2 separate regions of the Homo sapiens genome follow, and region 1 is linked to region 2. Evidence: fine-mapped expression QTL. A gene starts in region 2. The other region holds a variant in brackets. All regions are shown on one strand. Distances are between the middles of the regions.

Region 1 (4,524 bases), 130 kb before region 2:
AATAATAGTGCATGCATCAAGTGCAATGGGAAGCTCTTCTGGAGAGGGAGAGAAGCTTCCAGTTAAGGTGACATTGAAGCCAAGTCCTGTAAGATAAGGAAGAGTTGTATGAGAGTGGGGAGGGAAGGGGGAGGTGGAGGGATGGGGATTGGGCTGGGATGGGATGGAGTGAGCTGCCCAGGCAGGGAAACCAGCACTATACAGACCTGAACAATGAAGATGGCACATTTTGTTCAGGGAATGGTGAATTAAGTGTGGCAGAAATGCTTTGTAGAGACAGTAATTTGCTTGTATGGAATTTTGCCCAAGAGACCTCATTACAGTTTCTAATTTTTTGATGTTATCATGCATCACTGCCCTTGTCAGATAGTATCATGATCACAATAACATCAAGCATAATATTTCATTGATTCTCACAAAAACAGGTGGGTGCCACAGTTATCCCCATTATATGCACAAAATGATGAAGACTTGGGGTTAATGAGCGATTTGCCCAAGCTCACCTGAATATTAAGACTGAGTCAAATGTTAGTCTGGTCTGACTTCAATGCTTGCCTTGTTCATGAGCACCATGCATTGCCTCTCCTATGCAGTTAAGCAGGTAGACAGGTGAGAGAAGAGCCCGTGTGATATCGGGGGAAATTCACCCCGATATTTCATGTAGGTTCTTTTCTGTTTTCCCTGAGTGTTGGCCGGTCTGAGAAATAAAGGAAAAGAGTACAAAAGAGAGAAATTTTAAAGCTGGGTGTCCAGGGGAGACATCACATGTCGGCAGGTTCCGTGATGCCCCGCAAGCTGCAAAACCAACAAGTTTTTATTAGTGATTTTCAAAAGGGGAGGGAGTGTACGAATAGGGTGTGGGTCACAGAGATCACATGCTTCACAAGGTAATAAAATATCACAAGGCAAATGGAGGCAGGGCAAGATCACAGGACCACAGGACCGGGGCGAAATTAAAATTGCTAATGAAGTTTCGGGCACGCATTGTCATTGATAACATCTTATCAGGAGAAAGGGTTTGAGAGCAGACAACCCATCTGACCAAAATTTATTAGGCGGGAATTTCCTTGTCCTGATAAGCCTGGGAGCGCCACGCGAGCCCAGGGCTTATTTCATCCCTTATCAACGACTGTAAAAGACAGCCGTCCCCAAAGCGGCCATTTCAGAGGCCTCCCCTTAGGGATGCATTCTCTTTCTCAGGGATGTTCTTTGCTGAGAAAAAGAATTCAGCAATATTTCTCCTATTTGCTTTTGAAAGAAGAGAAATATGGCTCTGTTCCACCCGGCCCACAGGCAGCCAGAGTTTAAGGTTATCTCCCTTGTTCCCTGAAATTGCTGTTATCCTGTTTTTTTTTTCAAGGTGCCCAGGTTTCATACTGTTTAAACAACTTGTGCAGTTAACGCAATTATCACAGGGTCCTGCAGGGACATTCATCCTCAGCTTACGAAGATGACCGGATTAAGAGATTAAAGTAAAGACAGGCATAGGAAATCACAAGGGTATTGATTAGGGAAGTGATAAGTGTCCATGAAATCTTCACAATTTATGTTCAGAGATTGCAGTAAAGATAGGCCCAAGAAATTATAGAAGTATTAATTTGGGGAACTAATAAATGTCCATGAAATCTTCACAATTTATGTTCTTCTGCCGTGGCTTCAGCTGGTCCTTCCGTTTGGGGTCCCTGACTTCCCGCAACACGTTTCTCTCTACTCACAGACTTCTGACCAAATGTGTGTGCAGAGTTTCTACACCAGTTCTCCAACTCTCTGGATACCAACCGCGTATCCCACAATTCCATTCTGACACTACCTAGAGTTAGCGCAGAACCCACAGGTTAGGGGCTCAGTCCCACAAGACCACTCTCACTTCAGATGCCAGTTGCAAGTCCTAGGTTGTCACCTGTATTTTGACCAACCAGTTAGAAATCAGGGTTTCCCATGACCCTCTTCTTGAGTTTAATTATTTACTAGAACAACTCACAGAACTTAGAAAAACAGGTTTTTTTCTTTCCTTTTTAAGAGACAGGGCCTCGCTCTGTTGTCCAGGCTGGTGTGCAGTGGTGCAATCATTGCTCATTGAAGCCTCAACCTCCAGGGCTCAAGTGATTCTCCTGCTGCAGCCTCTCAAGTAGCTGGAATTACAGGGTTCCCACCACCACATTTGGCTAATTTCTTTTATTTTTTGTATAGACGGGGTCCTCTTATGTTGCCCAGGCTGGTCTCAAATTCCTAGGCTCAAGTGATTCCGCCCACCTCTGCCTCCCAAAGTGCTGGGATTACGGGCATGAGCCAGCGCATCTGGCCACCTTATTTTCTGTTACTGGCTCAGTGTAATGGCTCCATCTCAGGAACAGCCAATGAAAGAGATGCACAGGACAAGGTAAGTGGGGAGGGGCACAGAGCTTCCATGCCCTCTGTTGGGCACACTACCCTCCCAGGACCTCCTTGTGTTTAGCA[A/G]CACAGAAGCTCTCCAAACCCTGCTGTTTGGGTTTTTATGGAGGCATGATTGATAAAATCATTGGCCATTGGTAGTTAAGTCAATCTCCAGTTCCTTTTGCCTCCTGGAGTTCAGCAGGTGAGGCTGAAAGTTCCAAGCCTCAAAAAATGTGGTTGGGGCCAGGTGCGGTGGCTCACTCCTGTAATCCTAGCAGTTTGGAAGGCTGAGGCACATGGACCACTTGAGGTCAGGAGTTTGAGACCAGCCTGACCAACATGGTGAAACCCTGTTTCTACTAAAAATAACAACAATTAGTTAGGCGTTGTGAGACATCCCTATAATTCCAGCTACTCGGGAGGCCAAGGCAGGAGAATTGCTTGAACCCGGGAGGTGGAGGTTGTAGTGAGCTGAGATTGTGCCATTGCACTCCAGCCTGGGCTACAAGAGCCAAACTCCGTTTAAAAAAAAAATGTGGTTGCTTTCTCTGGCAGCTAGCCCTCCTCCTGAAGCAGTCTAGGAGCTTGCAGCCACCCTGTTAGCTCAACAGCATCCCACATGCATTCTTACCATGCTGCAGATCTGAAAGACCTTAGAGGCCCTTGTGTCAGGAACCTGGGACTAAGACTAAATATCAAAACAGAAAATGCTCCTATTACCTCTGTCACGAAGGGCTTTATAAGAGCTTTGGAAGCTCTATGCCAGGAACCAGGGGCAGAGACCAAATGTATATTTCTTTTCTTATATTGGAGACAGAGTCTCACTCTGCCACTGAGGCTGGAGTGCAGTGATGTGATCATAGCTCACTGCAGCCTTGACCTCCTAGGCTAAAGCAATCCTCCCACCTTAGCCTCTCCAGTAGCTGGAACTACAGGCGTGCATCACCATGTCCAGCTGATTTTAATTTTAATTTTGTAAAGGCAGGGTCTTCCTATTTTCCCCAGGCTGATCTCTAACTCTTGGCCTCAAGCAATCCTTCCTCTTTGGCCTCCCAACTTGTTGGGATTACAGATGGGAGCCCTCATACCCACCAATCACAAGGATCTTTATAAGAGAAGGAGGTAGGAGAGTCAGAATTAGAGAAAGTGATGTGGTAATGGAAGAAGAGGTCAGAGAGGGAGATTTGAAGATGCTGCACTTCTGGCCTTGAATATGGAGTCACGAGGTAAGTCAAGGAATGGGGGTGGCTTCTAGAAGCTGGGAAAGGCAAAGGAGCACATTCTGTCTAGAGCCTCCCCCAGAAGGAATGCAGCCCCTCTGACACCTTGACTTTAGCCTTAATAGACCTAGTTGGGCTTCTGGCCCCCAGAACTGTAAGATGGTAGATTTGTGGTGTTTGATGCCACTAAATGTAGGGTACTTTGTTGTAGCAACAACAAAAAATGAACATGAAGCTGGGACCTCATGTTACAGTTGCTCACGCCTGTAATCCCAGAACTTTAGGAGGCTGAGGTGGGAGGATCGCTTAAGCCCAGGAGCTTAAGACCAGCCTGGGCAACATAAGACCTCATGTCTAAAAAAAAATTTTTTAAAAGGCCAGACGCAGTGGCTCACGCCTGTAATCCCAGCACTTTGGGAGGCCGAGGAGGGTGGATCACGAGGTCAGAAGTTCAAGACCAGCCTAGCCAAGATGGTGAAACCCCATCTCTACTAAAAATACAAACATTAGCCAGGTGTGGTGGTGGGTGCCTGTAATCCCAGCTACTCGGGAGGCAGAGAATCACTTGAACCCAAAAGGCAGACATTGCAGTGAGCCAAGATCGCACCCTTACACTTCAGCCTGGGTGACCGAGACTCCGTCTCAAAAAAAAAAAAAAAAAAAAAACCATGTGTTGTGGCATGCAGCTGTAGTCTCAGTTCCTAGGGTGGCTGAGGCGGGAGGATTGTTTAAGCCTGGGAGGTTGAAGTTGCTGTGAGCTGTGATTGCACCAGTGTACTCCAGCCTGGGCAATAAAGCAAGACCTTGTTTCAAAAAGAAAGAAATGAGCATGGTGGGAATGGGGACAGAGGGCAGTGTTAAGTAGAGTGGTCAGGGTTGGCCTCGTAAGTGAATATTGAGCAAAAGTTTGAAGCAGGTGATGGAGCTGGCC
Region 2 (4,000 bases):
CTTTGATAATGGCAAATGCCAACTGAGCAAGGTGGCTCATGCCTGTAATCCCAGTACTTTGGGAAGTCGAGGCAGAAGGATCACTTGAGGCCAGTAGTTCAAAATCAGCCATAACACACTCTAAACTCATTTCTGTAATGTGGAATAATCAACAATCAGTGGGACTTTTACAAGGGTAAAGTCGGAAATAGAATCTTTCAACTGAATTTAGTTTAAATAACCCCTCCTTATTTGCACTAGTTGCTCTTCCAAGTCTGGCAGACGTTCCTGACTCTAGAACAGATCATACTGTCAACATCCCCTCATGATGAGCATGTGACTCTGGGCCAAAGACAAGTTTAAAACCATTTCAAGACCTGTTCAGTTTATGTCATGCTTCTTCAACACTAATAATCTCAATAATTTTTTATCAATCCTACTTCAATAACTAGGAGTAATTGATCCTACCTTGTCAGCGAGAAGAATGCTTCCATCTCTGGTAGAGGCAATTGTTTATTTGCCTTTCCTAATTTTTGTAAAGATTCAATGCCACTTAAGCCCAGGGTCTTTTTGTCTACTACCATCAGACAATCTGTATTACAGCACACAATCTAATTAATTCTCAGGTAATGGCCCTCTCATCCCAGAATCTACAAAGCATTTTTCTTGAAAGGTCGTATACTATCTTTGTCTCTAAAACCTGGCAATTGATTTGGAGGCAAATTGGAGCAAGGTTAGGAAGCTATGGAACAGCTTTAAGAGTGCTGGATTTGGAGTTAATTTTAGGCTTTATAATTTTTTTAGTAACCTTAGACAATTCACTCCTTTTGTGTCTCATTTCCTAATTCTATAAGATGGAGTACTGCCCCTTCAAAGAGGTTTTACGACGATTTAATGACTTTGTAAAAACACAACTACAGTCTTATCTCCATTTACTATGCACCAAGAGAACCACTTATATGTCTGGGTGCCCGTTATTTTCTGAACAATTCAGGAATCATAATGTGACAAGAAAGAGAATATTTGAAATTGGACCCACGAGGTAAAATCCAGGCAGTATAGGTCATTTTCTTCCTGCTAGCATTCTGTTCTTGCTGAGGCTCACACTCAAAGTCAAATAACCTTTGGGTTATTCTTCCCACCCCCATTTCCCCCCAGATGGAGTCTCGCTCTGTTGCCCAGGCTGGAGTGCAATAGTGGCACGATCTCAGCTCACTGCAACCTCCGCCTCCCGGGTTCAAGCGATTCTCCTGCCTCAGCCTCCCGAGTAACTGGGATTACAGGCGCCTGCCACCACGCCCGGCTAATTTTTGGATTTTTTTTTTTTTTTTTTTTTTTTTAGTAGAGACGGGATTTCAGCATGTTGGCCAGGCTGGTCTCGAACTCCTTACCTCAGGTGATCCGCCCGCCTCGGCCTCTCAAAGTGCTGGGATTACAGGGGGGCGCGGCCAGGTTATTCTTAAACCCACTCCCTTGAAGTACCTGCAAAATGCTCACGTGCTGCTCTCTGGCCCGTTTGGAAACTCAGTCCCGTGAGTAGGACGTCCACCTCATTGGTGGTGTTTAAATATTAAGTGTCAAATGCTAGAGACAGTACAAAACCCACCAGAGGGGGCCTTCCTAACACGTTGGCATAAGGATCCAAACGGAATACGGGGATAGGAGAGGTGACCTCGTGCAGTTTCAGGGAGGAGTCCATCACCTGACTGGACTGGGCCTTTCAGGGGGACGAGAACGTATTTCTTCCAACGAAACCTGAATAACCAGCTATCTGCCTGGGACGCCGCGAGGCAGAAGTAGGCGGGCCCATTGACTTAGTGTCAAGGCGGAGGCCGCGCTTCATGCCAGCGGTCACGGAGGCAGCGGAAAGCCGAGCCAGGCGCCTGCGCGCTGGGAAGAGTAGGTTCAGAGTGCATTCCGGAACCCGGGGCGCGGCGCACTGCGCAGGCGGCCGGACTCCGCTCAGTTTCCGGTGCGGCGAACACCAAAGTCCGGGAACTTAAGCATTTTCGGTTTCTAGGGTTGTTACGAAGCTGCAGGAGCGAGATGGAGGTGGACGCACCGGGTGTTGATGGTCGAGATGGTCTCCGGGAGCGGCGAGGCTTTAGCGAGGGAGGGAGGCAGAACTTCGATGTGAGGCCTCAGTCTGGGGCAAATGGGCTTCCCAAACACTCCTACTGGTTGGACCTCTGGCTTTTCATCCTTTTCGATGTGGTGGTGTTTCTCTTTGTGTATTTTTTGCCATGGTGAGTATCTCGAATGCAAAATTGGGGTGGTAAGGAGCTTAGAGATCATTTGCTCGCTTTTGGGCGGGGAGGGGACTGAATTCCAGAGAGTTTATATATGTCCAAGATCACACAGCTGGTGAGTGGCGCAGTCGGGTGGGTGGGGGAGAAGGACTAGGAGTAAAATGTCCTTCTTTAGCACGTCCGTGGGAGTCTCCAAAGAAGTGTGGAGAAAACTTGGCGTCATATTTTCTCATGATTTGGAATGAAACCAGCTAGGCTTGAGTTCCTGCAGCACCATGAAGCGACCGGAGAAGTTATTTCGCCTTTTGGAGCTTTATTTTTTCATCTGCCATTTGGGACCATTAGTAACCCAGGTCATAGGGGTGTAGTGAAGATTGAGATCGTAGTGATTTGCATGTTGCCTGGCAGTAGTAAGTGCTCAACGAAAGCTATTTTTACTATACAGCTGTTTAACCATGAGCAGACCACGCAGCTGTCTCAAACTAAACATGTCCAAAACTGAACTCTTAACAGCTTCTTACCCAAATTTACTTGCCTTGCAGCGTTACCATTTCAGTAAACGCCAACTTTATCCACCGTTACCTCCCAGAAACCTGAGACACTTTGCCCTTTTCTTACACACATCCACATATCCTAAAACACCAAGTTACAAAATTCTGTAGAGTTTACTTGTAAAACCCATGCTCTCCATTTTCATCGCCACTCGCTCTGAAAAGACAATTCTGGCAGAGGGTAAAGGAAGGGAACTTAAGAGAATAGGGCAGGAGGAAGCAGACACCAAATGGAGATGGTGTTAAGAGACAAGCTAAGGAGAAGCAGTGAGATGAAACAGGGCTCCTATGGGAGAAGAGCAGTGTAGCCCATCTAGACAGCTCTCCTGGACTTTGGAGTTGATTGTTCACTCACTGTTAACTCCTTAGTCACCATGCCTATGAGTTACTTCTGAAATTCTCACTTCTTGATAGGCAGTCACTTCTTCTACACCCCCAACCCCCATCCTATATTTTCACCAAGATTTGGGTGTCTTAAGCCTCACTGTCTCATTTCTTGGATGGTGTAGTAAGTTAGAGAAGACAGAGAGGGCCAGGCACAGTGGCTCACGCCTGTAGTCCCAGCTACTTGGGAAGCTGAAATAGGAGGATTGCTTGAGCTGGGGAGGTCGAGGCTTCAGTGAGCTGTGAACGTGCCACTATACTCCAGTCTGGGAGACAAAGCAAACCCTGTCTCAAAAAAAGGGGTGGCAGGGGAGCGAGAGGGATTAATGGGAGGATGGCAAAAGGGATAGGGATTTCTATAAAATTCTCTGTCAAGCCATTTGTAAAGGGAGAGTTTTACTCTCCCTCCCTGTTTTGGTAGAGACTGATAATCTCAAATACAGTGGGTTTTGTGTGTGTGTGTGTTTTTATGACCTGAACTTTCAGCTCTGGATAGAAAATAGAGGCCTTACAAGAAATGTTCTAGGCTTTTCTTTTTATCAATATGTAAATAGGCATAAAGTGTTAAAAACTGGGAAGATAAAGCACATATTGCTGACAAATACTTGCTTTTTACAGACTTGTTCGCTGATATCTAAATTAAGAAGTTGGTTCTTGAGTGAATTCTGAAAATGGCTACAAACTTCTTGAATAAAGAAGACAGGACTCTCAATAGAAGAATTTCACATCTCCAAGGGACCCTTCCTTTCATTTTACACTTTGTTACTAATTTGCAGAACTCTATTAATTGGGTAGGATTTCACCCATTCCTAGCTAAGTTCTTAAAATTAAACCCTT

Which allele goes with the higher level. Alleles are on the strand shown, and positions count from the first base shown. SD is a standard deviation of normalised expression in the study named.
In carriers of allele G in region 1, the expression in rectum of the gene that starts at base 1,916 in region 2 tends to be lower than with A alone (large effect, 1.1 SD a copy in CEDAR).

The links. PIP is the estimated chance that this variant, and not a neighbour inherited with it, causes the effect.
Region 1: its variant is the best candidate, but not a certain one, in a credible set for the expression of ARLN in rectum (CEDAR, PIP 0.61).

The regions. Positions count from the first base shown.
Region 1 is chr4:119,427,276-119,431,799 of GRCh38, reverse strand. No RefSeq gene overlaps it. Among named protein-coding and RNA genes, the nearest start is that of LINC01061, 19 kb to the right of the region's middle. The variant A/G (reference allele first, on the strand shown) is at 2,458.
Region 2 is chr4:119,298,561-119,302,560 of GRCh38, reverse strand. ARLN (allregulin) reads left to right here and starts at 1,916. Exons shown (of 2, transcript NM_001001701.4): 1 at 1,916-2,225; 2 at 3,782-4,000. The coding sequence starts at 2,026. The coding sequence ends at 3,782. RefSeq lists enhancers at 1,943-2,172, 2,273-2,322.